Homo sapiens: one gene and its partners. The protein of the gene in region 2 binds, or shares a complex with, the protein of the main gene of each other region. Each region holds a gene or a part of one and is shown on either strand. Other genes may lie near its edges. The genes, in order: HDAC1, MIDEAS and DNTTIP1. A codon is read from its position in the direction of its gene.

Region 1 (7,004 bases), on a different chromosome or scaffold from region 2:
GAGCCCAGGAAGTCAAGGCTGCAGTGAGCATGATCCTGCCATTGCACTCCAGCCAGAGCAAAAAAGAGAGCGAAACCCCATCTCAAAAAAAAGGGAAGATTTAGCTATGTTGGACTTACCTGTCCTCATGGAGCTGAATAATGGCCACCCCTCCAGGTAGGGCCTGAACTCTACCTTTGCCAGAGTCCCCTCCACTCCCTGTTGGTCTTAGACAATGAAACTGAGTGTTAGTAGCTATTTACCACCAAGCTCATGCTTGTTGTTCTTATAATAAAGATAAATGGTTTAATAAATGGTATGATAAAGAAAATTATATTATGGTATTATACCATTTAATAAATGGTATAATAAAGAAAATGGTTTTTTGCACCCACATTTCCATTAAAAAGTGAGAAAATTAAAGATACCTGAGGATGGCAGAGTGTTTGATGAAAGATAGGGAAATGTTGGCCAGGCACCGTGGCTCACACCTGTAATCCCAGCAGTTTAGGAGGCCGGGGCAGGCGGATCACAAGGTCAGGAGTTCAAGATCAGCCTGGCCAACATAGTGAAACCCCGTCTCTACTAAAAATACAAAAAATTAGCCGGGAGTGGTGGCAGGTGCCTACAATCCCAGCTACTCGGAAGGCTGAATGGCGCGATCTCAGCTCATTGCAACCTCTGCCTCCCAGGTTCAAGCCATTCTTCTGCCTTAGCCTCCCTAGTAGCTGGGATTACAGGCGCCTGCCACCATGCCTAGCTAATTTTTATATTTTTAGTAGACGTGGGGTTTCGCCATGTTGGCCAGGCTGGTCTCAAACTCCTGACCTTGGGTGATCTGCCCGCCTCGGTCTCCCAAACTGCTGGGATTACAGGAGTGAGCCACAGTGCCCGGCCTCTAATTTTTATTTTTAATTTTTTTAATTTTTATTTTTTTAATTTTTATTTTATTTATTTTTTGTAATTTTTAAAATATACAAAAAAAGGGCCGGGTGTGGTGGCTCACGCCTGTAATCCCAGCACTTTTTGGGAGGCTGAGGTGGGTGGATCACGAGGTCAGGAGATCGAGACCATCCTGGCTAACATGGTGAAACCCTGTCTCTACTAAAAATATAAAAAAATTAGCCGGGCCTGGTGGCAGGTGCCTGTAGTCCCAGCTACTCGGGAGGCTGAGACAGGAGAATGGCGTGAACTCGAGAGGTGGAGCTTGCAGTGAGCCAAGATCGCACCACTACACTCCAGCCTGGGCGACAGAGTGAGACTTCATCTCAAAAAAAAAAAAAATTATATATATATATATACATATATATATGCAAACAAAGAGCATCTGAGTCATAATAATGTAAATCTATCACCTGACTGACCTGCTGCCACACCTCATGATCTCATCTGATCCCCACACTCCTTCTCTTTGGGATACTGTGTACAGCCATAGCGTGGGTGAACTTTGTATTCCTATCCTCCCCATTTTTGTTATTTTATTTTATTTCTTATTTATTTGAGACAGAGTCTCACTCTGTCATCCAGACTGTAATGCAGTGGCCTGATCTCGGCTCACTGCAACCTCCACCTCCCGGTTTCAAGCGAATCTCCTGCCTCAGCCTCCTAAGTAGCTGGGACCTACAGGCACACACCACCACGCCCAGCTAATTTTTGCATTTTTAATAGAGACGGGGTTTCACCGTGCTGGGCAGGCTGGTCTCGAACTCCTGACCTCAGGTGATTTGCCCACCTCAGCCTTCCAAATTGTTAGGATTACAGGCATGAGTCACTGTGCCCGGCCTCCTCCCCATTTTATAACAAGGGAAATGGAGGCCCAGAATGGTTAAGTAAACCCACCCAGGGCTAGCTGAGAATTAGCAACAGAGAACTGGGAGTAGAATTTGTTCCCTGGCCCTTTGCTGTTTCTATTATAAGCCACCCAGTCTTAGATTTTCTGTTACCTTATAATTAATGACTCAAATGCAGTTTCTGAGTGAGAAACACAAGTCCCAAACACTCTTTAAAGAGGCATAAAGATGTATCTTGTTGTTTTCTTTTGTTTGAGACAAGGCCTGGCTCTATTGCCCAGGCTGGAGTGTGGTGACATGATCTTGGCTCACTGCAACATCTGTCTCCTGGGCTCAAGCCATCATCCCACCTCAGCCTCCTGAGTAGCTGGAACTACAGGAGCGCGCCCCCACACCTGGGTAATTTTTCTATTTTTTGTAGAGATGGGGTTTTGCCATGTTGCCCAGGCTGGTCTCGAACTCCTGAGCTCAAGTGATCCACCCATCTTGGCCTCCCAAAGTGCTGGGATTACAGGCGTGAGCCACTGTGCCCAGCCTCTTGTTGACTGTAGGACCACAAGTTGGCGGCTAACTTAGAGCAATGTTTGGCACACAGGAAGCACTCATTAAATATTGACATTATTGTAGTTATTTTAATAGCCCAGCATTGCACTTTTAGGTCTTTCAGCTTTCAGTGATGATCAGTTGATAATTGATGATCTGGTGGAGTGGTTCTTAATGGTAGAGTTGGGGGCAATTTTACACTCCCTTACACCCCACTAATCTTCCCCCCAACCCAATGGTAAAGCTATTGCACAGTACTTGGCAATGTCTAGAGACAATTTTGGTTGTCACAGCCTGGGGGGAAGGTGCTACTGGCATCTAGTGGGTAGAGGCTAAGGATGCTGCTTAATTTTTTTTTTTTTTGAGACAAGAGTTTCACTCTAGTTGCCCAGGCACAGAACAGCTTCACAGAAGCTGTTAATGCACAGAATAGCTTCCTACAAAAAAGCATTACCTGGCCCAAAATGTCATTAGCTACCAGGCTGAGAAACCTGCCCTCCTAGGCCGGGCGCTGTGGCTCACGCCCGTAATCTCAGCATATTGGGAGGCCGAGGTGGGCGGATCCTGAGGTCAGGAGTTCGAGACCACCTGGACCAACACGGAGAAACCCAGTCTCTACCAAAAATACAAAATTAGCCGGGCATGGTGGCACATGCTTGTAATCCCAGCTACTCGGGAGGCTGAGGCAGGAGAACCGCTTGAACACAGAGGCAGAGATTGTGGTGAGCCGAGATCACACCATTGCACTCCAGCCTGGGCAACTAGAGCGAAACTCTTGTCTCAAAAAAAAAAAAAAAAAAAAAAACAGGGAAAGAAAAGAAAGGAAACCTGCCCTCCTATCATAGGATAATCCCATTTCCTCCTGTCTAAAGAGACGCCTACTTAGTCATCCTGGGTGACTGCATCAGGGAGGTAGATTTTGGAGTCTGAAAGGCTGGGTTCTGTCACTTTGTTACAGTGCCTCTGGTGCAAAGAAAGCATTTTAAAAACCCTGTACAATTAAAAAATTGAATTTAATTACTTTGTGTAACTTTGAATAATTCACAGAAGTCTGAACTTCTTTATCCTGTCCTGTAAAATGGAGGTAAAAAGCCCTTGGCCGAGAGCTGTTTTGAGGAAAAACTGAAATAACATTGGTAAAGTGTCGCACAGTACTTGGCACACAGCAGCCCCTCGACAAACATTAGCTTTCTTTCCCTTTCTTGTCGGTTTCTTCCTCTCCAAACCCGCGTGTTGCTTTTCTTTTTAATTATTTTTCTGTAGCCCTCCTTTGCGGCCACAAACTCGCTTTCTAACCCAGGTTCAGCCCTTTTATTGGCTGAGTGACCTTGTGCAAGTCACTTTTCCCCTGTAGGCCTCGGTTTATTCTCCGTAAAATCAGAAAGTTGGCCTCCGATCTCCAAGCACGCTTTTCACGACGAAGTGGGACTGTTAAGTTTACAGAGCTGCTTTCCTCCCCCGGGACTGATGGTACGGTCCCCGGGCGGCTCCCCACCCATCTGTCGCAGACCTTGGTACAGGCCCAGGGGGCCCTCGGCGGCCTCTCCGGGCTGCCCTTGCCCCCTGCCGAGTTCCGGGCCCGTGTCTGCGCAAGCTGATTGGCTGGAGCGGTGCCCGGGCTGCGCGGCTATAGGTGAGCCCAGGAGGGGACGGGCGGGGCGGGCCGGAGGCCCGCCCCCTCCCCCCTGGGTCGGACGCTGAGCGGAGCCGCGGGCGGGAGGGCGGACGGACCGACTGACGGTAGGGACGGGAGGCGAGCAAGATGGCGCAGACGCAGGGCACCCGGAGGAAAGTCTGTTACTACTACGACGGTGAGCACCGTCCTCGCGGCGGGGGCGGGGCCAGGCCGGGCCGGACCGGGAACCTGGAGGCTGAGGCTGGAGCGCCGATGGGAGGCTGCGGGAGGCTGAGGCGCTGGGGAGAGGCTCGGAGAGGAGGCTGCGAGGGGGAAGTCGAGGCTGAGGGAGGAGGCTGCGAGGAAGGGAGATCGAGGCTGAGACCAAGAGGGGATCGCGTGGGGGAAGCGTGAGGTAATCTTGATGGGAAGATTCTGAGGAAGTCTGATGTGGAGAGTTTGAGTGGGACTCCTAGAGGGGAGGGTGCGTCGGAGCGGGGAGGCTGAATCTGATGGAGACGGCTGCAAGGATACATTTTCTTGCCGAGAACCCAAAGCTCTTCCCTGCCCCGTCCCTTCCTCATCTTTTCTGGGGGAAGAGTCCTGCACGACTGGTTGCCCGCCTCCCCTCCCCCAGCCTCTGAGCGGGGCCTGCGGTTGCTACTGCGACGTGGGGCGCCAGGGGTTGCAAGGAGAAGGATGCAACCTGTTAAAACAGACTTCTCACTTAATCTCTCAAGCAGGTTACTGTGTTCGAGGAAGTGTTGAGGGGCTGGGGCCGTGGGGTTGATCGGGTCACCCTTCCCAGTGACCGAAGTTCTCTCCGTGTCAGAGCTCAGAGTGTTAGGGGAGCACAGAGAAGAGGCACCGAACTCCACCTGAGGAGTCAGCGAAGGAGGGGACATCTTAGTTAGGACCTGAAGAACAGGAGTTCTTAGCCAGGCACAGGGAAGGCAAAGATAACAGCAAGTTTCAGAGGCAAGAGAGAGGACAGGACCTTTGAAAAACAGGCATTTGGCCGGGCGTGGTGGCTCACGCCTGTAATCCCAGCACTTTGGGAGGCCGAGGCTGGTGGATCACCTGAGGTCAGGAGTTCGAGACCAGCCTGGCCAACATGGTGAAACCCCGTCTCTACTAAAAATACAAAATTAGCCGCGCATGGTGGTGTGCGCCTGTAATCCCAGCTACTCTGGAGCCTAAGGCAGGAGAATCCCTTAGAACCCGGGAGGCAGAGGTTGCAGTGAGCTGAGATCGTGCCACTGCACTCCAGCTTGGACAACAGAGCGAGGCTCTGTCTTAAAAAAAAAAAAAAAAAAAGATGTAAATAGGGACCGGACCATGAAGGGCTGGGCATGCTGTCCCAAGGAAGTTGGACTTTATTGAGGGCACTTGTGAGTGATTCAAGTTTTATGCAGGTTATTGACATCATCAGGTTTATACCTTAGAAATTAAAGTAATGGGGGCCAGGTGCAGTGGCTCACACCTCTCTAATCCCAGTACTTTGGGAGGCTGAGGCAGGCAGATCACTCGGGGCCAGGAGTTCAGGACCAGCCTGGCCAACACGGTGAAACCCCATCTCTACTAAAAATACAAAATTTAGGCTGGGCACGGTGGCTCACGCCTGTAATCCCGGCACTTTGGGAGGCTGAGGCGGGCGGATCATGAGGTCAGGAGTTCAAGACCAGCCTGACCAACATGGTGAAACCCTGTCTCTACTAAAAATACAAAAATTACCCGGGTGTGGTGGTGCGCACCTGTAATCCCAGCTACTCAGGAGGCTGAGGCAGGAGAGTCGCTTGAACCCAGGAGGCAGAGGTTGCAGTGAGCCAAGATTGCACCGCTGCACTCCAGCCTGGGCAACAGGGTGAGACTCCATCTCAAAAAAAAAAAAAAAAATTAGCGAGGTGTGGTGGCACATGCCTGTAGTCCCAGCTACTCAGGAGGCTGAGGTGCGAGAGTTGTTTGAACCTGGGAGGCAGAGGTTGCAGTGGGCTGAGATCTCACCACTGCACTCCGTCCTGGGCAACAGAGCGAGACTTCGTCTCAAAAAAAAAAAAAACAAAAAAATTCAGATTGTAGGGGTAAGGAAGAAGGCATGGATCCCAAGTTCCTGGTGTGGGCAGTATTTTTTATTTTTTGAGATGATGTCTAGCTCTGTCACCCAGGCTGGAGTGCAGTGGCTTGATCTCGGCTCACTGCAACTGCAACCTCCACCTCCCAGATTCAAGGGATTCTCCTGCCTCAGCCTCCTGAGTAGCTGGGATTACAGGCGTGCGCCACCATGCCTGGCTAGTTTTTGTATTTTTATTAGAGATGGGGTTTCACGATGTTGGCCAGGCTGGTCTCAAACTGACCTCCAGTGCTCCATCTGCCTCAGCCTCCCAAAGTGCTGGGATTATAGGCATGAGCCACACTTCCTGGCCTCTGATGTGGGCAATTTGATGGTGAGTGTTTGGAGGTTTGGAGAATGCCATGTCAGTTGATAACTTTTTTTTTTTTTTTTTTTTGAGATGGAGTCTCGCTCTGTCGCCCAGGCTGGAGTGCAGTGGCGCAATCTCGGCTCACTGCTGCAAGCTCCACCTCCCGGGTCCATGCCATTCTCCTGCCTCAGCCTCTCCAGTAGCTGGGACTACAGGCGCCCGCCACCACACTGGGCTGATTTTTTGTATTTTTAGTAGAGACAGGGTTTCACCGTGTTAGCCAGGATGGTCTGGATCTCCTGACCTCATGATCCGCCCGCCTCGGCCTCCCAAAGTGCTGGGATTACAGGTGTGAGCCACCGCACCCGGCCCCAACTTTTTTTTTTTTTTTTTAAACTTCTAGAGATGGGGTCTCAATATGTTGCCTGGGCTTGTCTTGAACTCCTGTGCCTGGCCTCAAGCAATCCTGCCACCTTGGCCTCCCAAAGTGCTGGGATTACAGGCCTAAGCCACTGTTTTTTTTGTTGTTGTTGTTTGTTTGTTTAGAAATAACTATTGATAACTGTTAAGATGTTTAGGGGACATCCAAGTAGAGGCATCCAGTAGGCAGTTTAGAAGATAGAAATTTTTTGGTAGTCATCAGTATCTTAGTCTGCT
Region 2 (7,106 bases):
ATCACTGTGATATAAAACTTCCCTTCTGAGTAAAAAATGAGTTGACTTAAAGGAAAATATTAAGTAATGGCACAAGTAGTATATGAATATGACAAAAATTCTAATGGCGACACATGGTAGGATGCAGATATGGCAGAAATCAAAAAGGTGATACAAGAATGACTGAGGTTTGAGAAACAGTGTTAGAGGTCTGCTAAGCGGAGATAGGAAGATGATGCTGGTGTGAATCTTGTGGGAAAATTACCCTGTGTATCAACACAATGTATTATTACTATGACACCAGCAGTATAGAGAGGAGAACCCAGCGGTCCAGGGCTCCTTGCGGCTGTCAGGGACACTGTCTTCCTCAACCTGCCCTCTGCAGGCTCCTGGAGAGCTCGGGCTCGGGCTCCCAGCTCAGGCCTGGTCCCAGACCCAGCCCAGGCTCTATGCAGCTGAGGTTGGAAAAGGAGTCACCTTAATATCCACTTCAACCTCTTCCTGGGCCGACTTCTCATCGCTCGTATCCACATCCCCAAAGGTTAGAGTCCCATTGCGGCCGATTTTCACCTGCTTCTTGTAGGTGTAGTAGAACTCCACGCACTGGGCCACGGTCTTGGTCTGGATCTGGTTTGAAGTCAAAACTGAGGTCAGAACCCTCTGGTTTGGCTCATCTGCCTGTGGAGAATCCAGCCTTTCTCGTCCCTGCATCTTTCCCTTAACTTCAAGCCAAAATGAAACCCAGCCAACCCAGGCAATACAAGCATTTTTCCAATGCCTGCTCTGCAACAAACCACTGATCAATTAATCAATGCTTCAGCACTATTTAAAATAAGTAAATAAATAAAAAAAGCTATAAAGGACAATGTCGGAACCACTCGGGAGATGGCAATATGGATTGCATATCAGAGGGCATTACTGTATTTTTTTTTCTTTTTTTTGGAGACAGAGTCTCGCTCTGTCACTCAGGCTGGAGTGCAGTGACGCGATTTTGGCTCACTGCAACCTCCGCCTCCCAGGTTCAAATAATTCTCGTGCCTCAGCTTCCTGAGTAGCTGGGATTACAGGTGTGTGCCACCACAACCAGCTAGTTTTTTTTAAATATTTTTAGTAGACATGGGGTTTTGCCATGTTGGCCAGCCTGGTCTCAAACTCCTGGCCTCAGGAGTGATCCGTCTGCCTCTGCCTCCCAAAGTGCTGGAATCACAGGCGTGAGCTACCTCGCCTGGCCTGAATTATTTTATCAGGTTAAATTTCGTGGGCGTGCTAATGGTACTGTGGTTTTGTAGAATATCTTGGTTTTTAGGAGATACGTGCTGAAAGGTTTTAGTCATGTGACAGGATGACTGTAACTTACTTTTAATGATTAGCTGAATCAGAGAACAAGAGAGAGCTGTATATGTGTGTGTCTATGTTTAGACATAGAGAAAGAGAAAGCAAATATAGCCAATGTTAACGATTGCTAAATCTAAGTCCGGGGTGGATGGGTGTTCATTCTACTGTTCTTTCCATTTTCCTCTAAGTTTGAAATTTTTCAAACTGAAAAGTTGAGGGAAAAGGTCTGGGCACCATCTACATCCAAAGCCAGCCCTGACCTGGCAACACAGACGCTTTTCATTAATCCAGGCAAACAATTTCATTTCTCTCCAGGGAGCAGTGGCTGAGAAGTGAGCATACAGAAATGTCACAGTGTCCCCTGTCGGGGGAGGAACTCAAGGGAAACTCACAAGAAAGCCCTGGAAAACCTGAGGAGGAAGCGAAAGGCCTAAGTCTTCCTCCTGACTCTGCTACCACACAGCTATTCGAGCTTAGGCAAGTCACTCACTTTTCTAATTTCAGTTTTTTCATGTGTAAATAGCAAATGGGGTTAAGTAAGACTAGATGATCTCCAGGGACCTGCCTCTCAAGCTCTGAAATTCTAGCTCTCCCATTGCATAAATCTATTTGGCCACTGGGTTTAGTTTTTGGGCAACTTTCCCACACCCAGAGGCTGTTTCCTCTGACACCACCACACAGGCTCGCACATTGCTCAGCCACCGCTGGGCTGGGAGCTCCTGTCCAGAGAGGCCAGGGGTCAGTGTGGGCCCTTTGTGTCTGAGGAGGAAACAGACATGTTTCATCTCACAGAAATGGCCAAGTCACACATGTATTAATTAGGCCATTTACACATTTACTGTCAATTCTCTCTGACCCTTTGTTTGACTGACTAAAGGTCTGCTCATTTCATTAGGCATTAGGGGCGCCTCCGTGAATTTCACGGGCGTGTACTTCCCGTCAGTATTGCCCAATCAGGGAATAGCGTGTTACTAAAACACAGCAAAGGACTCCTCACAACAGGGCCCTTGTAGGGGAATTCATCATCAGCACTTTGTCTAGTCCCCAGGGCTGTTCCCAATACAATCTACAATCCCAAGAGGAAAGGGCATGCTCTTTTTAAAAACTCTTTTCCCTTGGCAGTCCACACAATTCTCTCTCCCCACAGCCCAGATTTTGTGAGACAGGGCTGGAAAGATGCAATTCCTTGGATTAGCAAAGCATCTGCTTTTCCAGAAGAATATGGAGAGAGGACAAGATAAATCTAGGGAATGTGGGCTTGAACAGCTGAGTTACTGGAAGGCAACTCTGGGTCAAAGGAAGTGGGCAGAGGCCCCCAGGTCAGCTCCGCAGGCACTTGCTGGCTCTCAGTGGCCTTCACCCCAGGGTGCCCTCCCCCTGCATCTTCCTCTGGGGAATGGCTCACCTCTACTTGCCACCCTCCTCCGCATCTTCCTCCTGCCTATTTTAAGTCTGATGCCCACTTAGGCCTCCTTCTGGATTGAGACCCCAGAGCTTGGCCACCCTACCCTGAAGTGAGGAAAGGATGCTTAGAACCAAAAGGGAAAAGAGACCTATCTTTCTCTTTCTTGTATTGTTTAGGAAATTCTCTCTGAGGCTACTCAGTAGCATTGACCTGACTGCTTTTTAAGAGGGATTGGTCACTGGCAGAGGGAGCCCCAAAGTCACACAGGCAGCTCCTGGCCCTCATTTGCCCTGAAACAGAGCCCAGCTCACCAGCTTCTGCACCAGGAAGAAATCCTTCTTGTAGATGGCAATGCCTTTGTTGAACAGCTTCCTCTCGGCCATCTTCCACTGGTCAGAGCCTATGGGGCAAAGAGGCAGCCAGGGAGTGAGGTGGGCAGGGCCCTGGCCACTGCAGGGCAATTTTGACAAGCAAAAAAGTGTGAGGCCATCCGCCCATGGTTTCTGCAGGCATCAGAGCCGGCTCCTCGTCCCACTTCCATGTGCCTCACAGCCTCGCTCCCTTGCTTGTGAAATGGAAACTAATATCACCTAGCTCACCAGCTGTGGTGAGGATTAAATAAGATAATGCATGTGAAACCCTTGGTGCTCTGCCTGGTGCAGATGAAATGTAGCACTAACATGCATGGAAAACATTGGCTGTTAGGATTATGTGACTCGGTCCATGTCCTTCTTAAAGTGACCAGAACAGGACATGCACTCCTGGGGCTAAGTTCCAGGTACCTGATGCCAATCTGGATGGCTCTCCATGGGTTCCTGTCCTTGTGGCCTGGGCTTTTTTGCCTGGATGGTCTCCCACCTGCCCACTCCCTTCTCCCCTCCCCTCCAGGGCACAGGAAACCCCTGGAGAGCTACCCCAGCTTTGGTGGCAGTTCCCTCACTCTGACTCTTGGCTTATCTACCCTCCTCCTCCCGCCCCCACCCAGGGCTGTGACTCAGCACTGAGCAGGGCCCCATGGATGCTGGAGACCTCTTGAGGCTCCAGGCACCATGCCCACCGCAGCCAGGCCCACCTGTGTAGTGATAAGTTGCCAGCGGATGGTTGTGGGGCCGCAGGGGCTTCTTCAGCAGCAGCTTATTCAGCGTTTCCTGGAGGGGAAGTGAGGGAAGGGTCAGGGCACTGACAGGGGTGTCGGTGGTGGACGGAGCATTCTAGGCCCTGATAAAATCCCGAGTAGGGTGGACACTTACTCTTGCCCCCTTAACTGCTGAGAGATAAGGGGTCCACTGGGGTGGTGAGATCACAGGGGGTGGGGCTGCCCAGAAAACAGACCTCAGGTCCTCTTAAGAGAGTCCATGGCCCCAAGGGAGGCAGCACTGCTGGAGAAGGCTCTCAGCAACCATCCAGTCTGAGTCCACTGACCCAGAATCAGGGATGGGAATGGACAGGAGGACACTGCACAGCAAAACCCGGGGTCTGAAACTAGGGCTCCCTTGGGTCAAGCCCCTACAGCCCCTTCCTTAGTCAGACCCTCCTACTGGCCTCAAATGTGCATGCCAGCAGCCATAGGTCCTGAGCAGCAGACATGGATCCAAGCCAGCCCCCACTGAGGGGCCCTCCCTCTGCTGGGGTTGCCTTCTCACCAGGATGTCTCCTCTGGATTCGTGCAGACAGTGCAGGGCCAGCTCCTGGTTGGTGCCAGCACCAGGGAAAATGCTGGAGCAGGCGGCTGTCAGCAGGTCTTCCACTGGATCCACAGGAGCATGAGGAGGGAGGGGAGGAAACCACGTTCAGGGCGGGGCTGGGCAGGGTGAGGCCTGGCCCACCCATGTGCCTGCCCTCACTTGCTGCCCCCAGGCCCCTCCTCACCTTGCCTCTGCTTCTCCCGGCTGCTCTCTAGGTCCTCCCATGGCTGCCACACCAAGTCAGCCTTGTGGGGATCTGCAGCTGCCAGGGCACGGTCCCTCATCAAGGGGATTTCTGCCTGGAACCGGGAGCCCACGTTGATCCGTCTAGAGGAGTGAAAAGGGCAGGAAGTGAGGCCTCACCTTGCGGGGACGGAGAACTTGATGATCCCTCAGGGTGGGAAGAAGATGAGGGGGAGCCGGCAGAGCAAGGCCTCAGCTAGGTGTAGGGAGTCTGGCTTCTAGGGGCTTGGGAGGACAGCCTGACCTGGCACCACCAGAAAGGCAAGGTCCAGAGGCTGGAGAGGGGAGAAGCAGCTGCAGGTTTACAGATGGGAAAGAGCCTCTGGACCCCCCTTTCAACTCTCCTAGAGATAAGTTCAAGCTGAGCCGGTCCTTGCCCTTCCCTGCAACTTCCACACAGAGGCAGGGCGGGGACAGCAAAGCCCAGGGCCACATACAGAAGCTCAAGGAGGCCCTCTCAGCCCTCTGCAGGCCCCACGGAACCCTCCTGTTGCTCCCAGGGCCCACCTGCACACACTGCACCAGTGTGGCCACCCACACCCCTCGGCCAGGGGCAGGGCTGCACTTACGGCTCGATGCTCACTGGGGTGGCCTCCCCCATCACAGAGAGGACAGGCGGGGTTACTTCAGCACTGTCTATGGGACAAAGAGCAGGTTGATAAATAGCACCCCCCTTTCAGCAAAGCACCCCCAATCCTAGTGGCTGCCCTGTATGTGCAAGAGTCACAGTGGTGACACACAGAGCTCACGCAGGGAACACAGGCACCTGAGTCCTGGCTCTGCAGCCTGTCACCTACGAAAACGCAGGCCCTTCACTAAATATTTGGGTGCCTCAGTTTTCACACTCACCAAAAGGGGCTATCACTACCTGTCTCCTACGGTTAATGTGAGAACTGGATAAAATAATGCACAGAGCCTGGCACTCGATAAAGATTATTATTACTGCTTCTACTACCAAAGCCATATCCTTGCCCCCAGAAGCTCCAACACTAACTCCAACATAAAGCTGTGGTTTTCTAGTAAAGAGACTGAAACTTTGAGCACACTAGGGAGGTGGTGAAGGGGATCGCTGTTTTATAGTTATCGTCTCACTTCCTCTTTGGATTTTCTGCCTCAGTTTCTCCCAAGCTAGTTTTTTTTTTGTTTTTGTTGTTGTTGTTGTTGCTTTTTGAGACAAAGTCTCACTCTGTCTCCGCCCAGGCTGGAGTGCAGTGGTGCGATCTCGGCTCAAGGAGTTGAACCTCCAAGTTCAAGCAATTCTCCTCCCTCAGCCTCCCAAGTAGCTGGAATTACAGGTGTGAGTCACCGTGCCCAGGCCCAAGTTGGTCTTCTTAAGGCCCCACATGATCAAAACACTCCTTTGCTTAAAAAAAAAAAAAAAAAAAAATCTTTGCTCTTTACTGACTCCCTCCTGCAATGTGAGATAAAACCTGCAACCCTCCCCTCAGGGTTCAAGGCGGTTCCGCTTCCATTTGTACCTCCCACCACCCATGTGCCTGGACCTGCATCCTAGCTGACTGCTTACCTCCCAACCCCTCACTCTCCCTGCACGGTCCCATCTACAGGCCTTTGCACCAGTCATTTCCTCCGCCTGGTGTGTCCTCCCTGCCCCCCGCCCTCCTCCATCGCTGCGGCTCAGCTCTGGCCCCACCCCTCTTGAATACAGTCCTCACCATCCCAGGCTAGCTGCTGGGGCTTTGCTCACTGGCTGCAGATCCCACACTACCGGGAACCTCTGTTTTTTCAACTCCAAGGCTTTCATGTCAACTCCCTAATGACCTTGCATTCTCTATAGAACAGACCATGGTGTCCTGTACATTCTTGGAGCCCTCACAGGACCCAGTACAAGGCCTTACGCCCGAGTGTTCGGTAGATACTCGTGGACAGACTGACCTCTCGCTGGCTGCCAGTCTGATCTCTACAATGACTTCCTCTTCCTACACAGCCTAGCCAGGGAGAAGCCTCCCCAGGAAGCAGTACAGAAGGCTGGCCAGCCTAGGGCAAACATTTTGCATCCACAGACACCAGGGGGCACCAGAGAGCTACACCATGGGTGAGGTCACAGTCAAAGGTTAATTGGCCAAAGGCATCTATAAGCTAGCTACTTCCACTTAATCCTCTCTACCACCCTAAGGGATTGGATTATCCCATTTTGCAGAGGAAATGGATCTCTTTATGGAGTGGGCAACATTTTTCAGCAGTACATCACCCCAAGCCAGCCCAATATTTCCAGAATGTCTGCTTTTGGCCAAAAAGACTGTTCGAGAGCCCCAGAGACTAGATCTGCCACAAAGGACTATGAGCAAACAGGATGGCCTGGGCATGATGTTCCAGCTTTATGTGTGCTAATGCACCTGAGCCTAGGAAGTGGCTATTAGGTTGAACCAAAGGAAACTACTATTTGTGAATCCAAAAATAGTTGAATATTGGCAGTTTCATCATCAACCAAGTAATACTAA
Region 3 (7,106 bases), on a different chromosome or scaffold from region 2:
TGACCCTGTGGTTACTCCCCATACCCCATTGGCAGGTCCAGGGTCACTTGGCAGAGATGGTTTTCCAAAGAGATCAAATGATGTTTGACAGGGACAGGGAGAAAAACTGCCTCTCATGTCTAGGAAGGCTCAAAAGGGCTTTGAGGAAGCCCAGTACCTTGCGGAGTGAAGAGCCTTTTTTGAGAGACAGGGTCTTACTCTGTTACTCAGCCTGGAGTGCAGTGGCATGATCATAGCTCACTACAGCCTTGAACTCCTGGGCTCAGGTGATCCTCCCACTGCAGCCTCTCATGTAGCTAGGACGACAGAAATGTGCCAGCATGCCTGGCTAATTTTTTTTTTATTTTAGAGACAGGGTCTCACTATGTTACCCAGACTGGTCTCAAAACTCCTGAGCTCAAGTGATCCTCCCCGCTTGGCCTCCCAAAGTGTTGGGATTACAGGTGTGAGCCACCACACCCGGCCTGACAAGCCTTTTTTCAGCCAGAAAACAAAACAAGGAAATGGTTTACCTTTTTAGGAAGGGGGCTTCCTCGATGGGCACATTCTTCTTCTGCCTGACGGCCACGCTAAAAGAAAAGGGAAGGGAGTCAGTGGAAGGCCAGTGCCTGGGAGCTGCAGGTCTTCTGGAGTTGCAGAAGACAGCCCTGGACTACAGCTCTCCAGCCCCGCTCTGACCCAGGCCAAAGAAGCCCATCCAGCATGATGCTGTGTGGGCCTGGTCCTACAAATGGAAGTACATGGAACCTCCCTGGGCCCACATATTTCACTTGCCTCCCAGCCTGAAGGACCTCCCGCTCCAATACCCGAGAACACAGTGACTCTGACCTTTATTCCTGGAAGCTCATGGGTCAATCTGGGTATTACTTTTTCTCCATCTGAAAAGAGCAGTTTAGCCTGAAGGGAAAAAGACCAAGTGTTACCAGTCACTATTTTGGTGGGTAAGCACACCCTACCTACTTCCTTTTTTTTTTTTGGAGACAGAGTCTTGCTCTGTTGCTCAGGCTGGAGTGCAGCAGCACCATCTTGGCTCTCTGCAACCTCCATCTCCTGGGTTCAAGTGATTCTCATGCCTCAGCCTCCAAAGTAGCTGGGACTACAGGGGTGCGCCACCATACCCAGCTAATTTTTGTATTTTTGGAAGAGACGGGATTTCACCATGTTGGACAGGCTGGTCTTGAACTCCTGACCTCAAGTGATCGGCCCACTTCCAAATATATATATATATATATATATATATATATATATATATATATATATATATATATATATATATTTTTTTTTTTTTTTTAAATTGAGATGGAGTTTCACTCTTGTCGCCCAGGCTGGAGTGCAGTGGTGCTATCTCAGCTCACTGCAACCTCCGCCTCCTGGGTTCAAGCGATTCTCCTGCCTCAGCCTCCCAGGCAGCTGAGATTACAGGTGCCCACCACCATGCCCAGCTAATTTTTGTATTTTTATTAGAAACGGGGTTTCACCATGTTGGCCAGGCTGGTCTCGAACTCTTAACCTCAGGTGATCCACCTGCCTTGGCCTCCCAAAGTGCTGCGATTACAGGCATGAGCCACCACGCCCAGCCACACACATATATATATTTATATGCATAGAAATAGATATCTATTTTTAAAAAAACTTGAATTAATGATCATGGCTGGAAAAATTAAAAAATGTAAAAAAGCAAAATAAGAAAAACCTGGAATCTCATTACATAAACTACTATTAATGTTTCAATGTAAATTCTTCCTTGCTTTTCCCATGTAAATACATACTGTATGTTTTTTCAAACTAAATACATTAGTATAACACATACTCCTCAGTAAGCTGCTGTTTTTCTTTTTTCTTTTTTTTTTTGACATGGAATCTTGCTCTGTTGCCCAGACTGGAGTACAGTGGTGCGATCTCGGCTGTCTGCAATCTCCGCCTCCCAGGTTCAAGCAATTCTCCTGCCTCTGCCTCCTGAGTAGCTGGGATTACAGGCGTGCAACCACACCCAGCTAATTTTTTTTTTTTTTTTTTTTGGTATTTTTAGTAGAGATGGGGTTTTATCACGTTGGCTAGGCTAGTCTCACACTTCTGACCTCGTGATCTGCCCGCCTCAGCCTCCCAAAGTGTTGGGATTACAGGCGTGAGCCAGTGCGCCTGGCCTGCTGTTTTTCTTTTAATAAATACTGAGTACCTGGGACCTAAGTGCTGTGGACACAGCAGTAACTAGGACAAGCTCTTGTGGAGCTTATAGTTTGTGGGTGATCTGGATAATAAGCACAGAAACAAACAAGGTAACTGTGGATCATGATAGATGCTGTGAGAAAAAAAGAAAAAAACCCAGGCAGATGTGACAGAGAACCACCAGAGGGGAAGGGCTACTTTGCGGGAATGGCCAGGGAAGGCCTTGCTCAGAAGGTGGCCTCTGAGTTGAGATGTGAAGGAGGCTGTAAAAAAAGCTGGGCAGAAGTGTTTCAGCAGCAGGGAGGAGTGCAGAAGCTCAAAGGTGGGAACACCTGGCTCATTTGACAAAGAAAAGGATGGAATGGGCAGAGGGGAGATGGTGCAGCAGGTGGAGAATTGGGTTCACCCGACCTCTGCCAGTGGCATTTGACAGTGCTGAGGGCTCCCCCTTCTGGAAACACTCTTTTCTACAGGCTCCTGTGGCCACACTTCCTGTGTTCCTTCTACTTCTCTGGCCGTTCTTTCTTAGCCTTCTTTGCTGGCTTTTCCTTCTCAATCTGGTTCTTTTCCCTATCCTCTCTCATTACATATTCTATCTGCTCTCACCTATTCTCACAGCTTCAATTAACATCTATAAACCACGATTCCATAATTCAACTGTAGACAAAAGGTTATCCTCTGAGCTCTAGACTTATATACCAAATAGTCTGCCCCATGTCTATGCTTGGATGGCTCAAAGCTGCTAATCCATAATTGGATTCATGCTCTTCTCCTCCAAACTTTGTCCCTTTCCAGTGAAGGGTGATCAAGTCTCAATGTGTAATTATGCACACATTTGTTGGTAATCTAATTCACACCTGTCTGCTTAAGTAGGCTGTTAAGTTCTATTAGAGCAGGAAGCTTGTTTGTTCATTTATCATTTGTTTGTTCCTTCATTTACTCAATAATTCAGCAAACTCTGTACACATACTAAGAGTCATATTCCAGGGCTGGGAATACAGTGGTGAACAAGATTAGGCCTCAACTCTTGTAAAGCTCAAGATTTTAGCAGAGGTAGGAGTGCGAGGGGAAGACCTCTCTGATATTTAAACTAAGATCTGAAGAAAAGAAGGAGCCGGCTTTATAGAGTTAAGGGTAGAGTACCCCAGGTACTAAGAACAGCAAGTGAAATGGCCTAAGCTTGTGCTGGAGGAGCAGAAAGGAGTTCAGAACAGCCAGAGTATAGTCAATAAAAAAGAGGTGAGATGAAATGAAGTTAAAGAAGCAGGCAGAAGCCAGTCGAGGGTAGGCTCTGTGGGTCATGGTAAGGCATTTTTTTTTAAATTATACTTTAAGTTTTAGGGTACATGTGCACAACATGCAGGTTTGTTACATATGTATACATGTGCCTTGTTGGTGTGCTGCACCCAGTAACTCGTCATTTAACATTAGGTATATCTCCTAATGCTATCCCTCCCCCCTCCCCCAACCCCACGACAGGCCCCGGTGTCTGATGTTCCCTTTCCTGTGTCCATGTGTTCTCATTGTTCAATTCCCACCCATGAGTGAGAACATGCGGTGTTTGGTTTTTTGTCCTTGTGATAGTTTGCTGAGAATGATGGTTTCCAGCTTCATCCATGTCCCTAAAAAGGACATGAACTCATCACTTTTTATGGCTGCATAGTATTCCATGGTATATATGTGCCACATTTTCTTAATCCAGTCTATCATTGTTGGACATTTGGGTTGGTTCCAAGTCTTTGCTATTGTGAATAGTGCCACAATAAACATATGTGTGCATGTGTCTTTATAGCAGCATGATTTATATTCCTTTGGGTATATACCCAGTAATGGGATGGCTGGGTCAAATGGTATTTCTAGTTCTAGATCCCTGAGGAATCGCCACACTGACTTCCACAATGGTTGAACTAGTTTACGGTCCCACCAACAGTGTAAAAGTGTTCCTATTTCTCCACATCCTCTCCAGCACCTGTTGTTTCCTGACTTTTTAATGATCACCATTCTAACTGGTGTAAGATGGTATCTCATTGTGGTTTTGATTTGCATTTCTCTGATGGCCAGTGATGATGAGCATTTTTTCATGTGTCTTTTGGCTGCATAAATGTCTTCTTTTGAGGAGTGTCTGTTCATGTCCTTTGGCCACTTGTTGATGGGGTTGCTTGTTTTTTTCTTGTAAATTTGTTAGAGTTCATTGTAGATTCTGGGTATTAGCCCTTTGTCAGATGAGTAGATTGCAAAAATTTTCTCCCATTCTGTAGGTTGCCTGTTCACTCTGATGGTCATTTCTTTTGCTGTGCAGAAGCTCTTTAGTTTAATTAGATCCCATTTGTCAATTTTGGCTTTTGTTGCCATTCCTTTTGGTGTTTTAGTCATGAAGTCCTTGCCCATGCCTATGTCCTGAATGGTATTGCCTAGGTTTTCTTCTAGGGTTTTTATGGTTTTAGGTCTAACATTTAAGTCTTTAATCCATCTTGAATTAATTTTTGTATAAGGTGTAAGGAAGGGATCCAGTTTCGGCTTTCTACATATGGCTAGCCAGTTTTCCCAGCAGGATCATGGTAAGGCATTAAGACTTTATTCTCCCTGCAACAGGAAAGTCACTGAAGGGTTTTTAAAATGGGGAGTGACATGATCTAATTCATCTTTACGGAGATCAGTCTGGCTGCTGTGAGAAGAGTGGATTGGAACTGGGTAACGGTGAATGTAACTCTGGACTGAGATATAAATGTGTGAATTATGAGCGGCTGAATTGGCTTCCAAGCCACAGGACTAGATGAAAACACCTATGAAAACAGTGAGCCATGAAAGAGAAGGGGTTTGAGGACTGAACTTGGGAAGGCACCAACAGTTAGAGGCGGGGGGTGAGAGAGAAGAGTAGGCAATGAGGTTGGAGCAAAGTCAAGGCACTCTAGCCAACAGAGGAGCATTCCAAGAAACGCGAAATGATCCATTGTGACAGATGTCACTGAGAAGCTGAGTAAGTTGAGGACAGTTAGGGACCAGAGGGTTTGACAACACGGAAGTTACTAGCGACCCCGACAAGAGGGGTTCCAGTGAAGTAGTGGGGACTGAAGCGAAAACAAAGTGAAGAGAATGAATAGGAGGTGAGAAAGTGAGCCAGCGACTATTGGCGACCTTTCCTGATGTCTCCCTATAAAATGGTGATGGCAACAATTCCTCCTAATAACAGCAGCTGACACATGTAAACAGGTTCTCTACTATCTTGGGAACAGTCATTTATAGACCTGATGTCATGCTTCCTGACCACACCAGAGAGGCAGGGAGGCAGCAGGGTGCTCATCCCCATGATACCAAATGGGGCCATGATAACTTGATCCACCACGCACCTGCAGGGGTGAGACAGATCTTAGCTATTCTAATTATTATGTGTCTTAAGCCATTTCTTTTTTTTTTTTTGCTTTGCTTTTAAAAATTTTTTTCTAGCTCTATTGATGTATAATTGATAAACAGAAATGGTATATATTCAAGGTGTACAATGTGATGAATTGACATAGATATACATAGTGAAATGATTACCACAATGAAATCAATCAACACATCCACCACTACCATTTTGTGTGTGGACACTTAAGATCTATGGTCTTAGCAAATTTCAAGTAAACAATAGAGATAAACTATAGTCATCATGCTGTACATCAGATTGCCCAGAACTTGTTCATCTTATAACTAAAAGTTTGTACCCTTTGATTAACATCCCCCCACTTCTCCCCTCCAGCTACTGCCATTCTACTCTCTGCTTCTATGAGTTTGCTAAGTCACAATTTCTTCATCTATAAAATAGTAATTAAAAGATATCTTCTGTACATAGTTTCTTCTGAGACATAAAAAAAAATAATGCATTTATCCTGGTACCTGACATATAGTAGCTACTTCCCTTCCTTTCCCTGTCAGCAACAGCCTCAAGCCTATCTCAATATGTGGCTTGCTGGGCATTCCCCAAAATACCACTGATGACAAGATCACATTTCTTTTTTTGTTTGTTTTTGAGACAGAATCTTGCTCTTTCACCCAGGCTGGAGTGTAGTGGTGCCATCTCGGCTCACCGCAACCTCTGTCTCCCAGGTTCAAGCGATTCTCGTGCCTATGGCTCCCAAGCAGCTAGGATTATAGGCGTGCACCACCATGCCCAGCTAATTTTCGTATTGTTTGTAGAGATGGGGTTTAGCCACGTTGCCCAAGCTGGTCTCAAACTCCTGGCCTTGAGTGATCTGCCCACCTTGGCCTCCCACAGTGCTGGGATTACATGTGTGAGCCACCACGTCCGGCTTAAGATCGCATTTCTTATCAGAGGCTCGAGAGCTAAACCTTGTGCCTGCATCTCTTGTCCCCTTTGGTCTCACCTGCTCCAGGCAGCTCCGACAGGCTTCCTGGATCAGCTGCTCTGCGTCCACCTCCTCCCCAACATTGTCTCGCACGTTCAGTGCTGCCTTCTGGAAGAACTAGGGGAGCACAACAGAGGACAAGGTCAGAGTCCTGTTAATGTGCATCAACCTGAAGGAAACTGAATATAAAATAAGTCTTTATCCTAGCTTCATACAGAAGGGAAAAGTGATTATGAGCAGGGCTTTGGGATCAGCCAGATTTAGATTCACATTTCAGGCTTGACCTCCTCCCTTTATTCCCCCTCTTACGGATATAATCGTGGGGGTGCCCAACAGATTGAGGTGTAAATAGTGCAAAAAATCAGGACGGGCGCGGTGGCTCACACCTGTAATCCCAGCACTTTGCGAGGCCGAGGTGGGCGGATCACGAGGTCAGGAGATCGAGACCATCCTGGCTAACACGGTGAAACCCCGTCTCTACTAAAAATACAAAAAATTAGCTGGGCGTGGTGGCGGATGCCTGTAATCCCAGCTACTTGGGAGGCTGGGGCAGAGAACTGCTTGAACCCAGGAGGCGGAGGTTGCAGTGAGCCAAGA

The links.
Region 1: the proteins of MIDEAS (region 2) and HDAC1 are in contact, whole or in part, in a cryo-EM structure (PDB 6Z2J), measured with the Homo sapiens proteins. Residues at the interface, in NP_001036783.1 of Homo sapiens: Arg722, Asn724, Gly726, Ser727, Arg728, Phe729, Gln730, Glu732, Pro734, Leu735, Met736, Arg737, Asp738, Arg739, Ala740, Leu741, Ala742, Ala743, Ala744, Asp745, His747, Lys748, Ala749, Asp750, Leu751, Val752, Trp753, Gln754, Pro755, Trp756; in NP_004955.2 of Homo sapiens: Tyr14 (codon at 4,114), Gly17, Asp18, Asn21, Tyr23, Gln26, Lys31, His33, Arg36, His39, Leu43, Asn44, Tyr48, Arg49, Lys50, Met51, Glu52, Ile53, Tyr54, Arg55, Pro56, His57, Thr65, Lys66, Tyr67, His68, Pro81, Ala119, Val122, Lys126.
Region 3: the proteins of MIDEAS (region 2) and DNTTIP1 are in contact, whole or in part, in a cryo-EM structure (PDB 6Z2J), measured with the Homo sapiens proteins. Residues at the interface, in NP_001036783.1 of Homo sapiens: Gln768, Asp771, Leu772, Thr774, Ala775, Ser778, Ser779, Ile802, Leu803, Leu806; in NP_443183.1 of Homo sapiens: Pro63, Ser66, Leu69, Leu70, Ala72, Val73, Leu74, Pro76, Ser77.

Annotation. Positions count from the first base shown.
Region 1 is NC_000001.11:32,288,096-32,295,099, forward strand, and holds the start of HDAC1 (histone deacetylase 1), read left to right. Parts: upstream 1-3,987; 5' UTR 3,988-4,074; coding exon 4,075-4,123; intron 4,124-7,004. UniProt on the Homo sapiens protein: Histone deacetylase that catalyzes the deacetylation of lysine residues on the N-terminal part of the core histones (H2A, H2B, H3 and H4).
Region 2 is NC_000014.9:73,722,242-73,729,347, forward strand, and holds part of MIDEAS (mitotic deacetylase-associated SANT domain protein), read right to left. Parts: intron 5,284-7,106; coding exon 5,217-5,283; intron 4,732-5,216; coding exon 4,589-4,731; intron 4,467-4,588; coding exon 4,363-4,466; intron 3,868-4,362; coding exon 3,792-3,867; intron 3,120-3,791; coding exon 3,031-3,119; intron 607-3,030; coding exon 457-606; intron 1-456.
Region 3 is NC_000020.11:45,794,865-45,801,970, reverse strand, and holds part of DNTTIP1 (deoxynucleotidyltransferase terminal-interacting protein 1), read right to left. Parts: intron 6,627-7,106; coding exon 6,528-6,626; intron 898-6,527; coding exon 829-897; intron 570-828; coding exon 513-569; intron 1-512. UniProt on the Homo sapiens protein: Increases DNTT terminal deoxynucleotidyltransferase activity (in vitro). Also acts as a transcriptional regulator, binding to the consensus sequence 5'-GNTGCATG-3' following an AT-tract.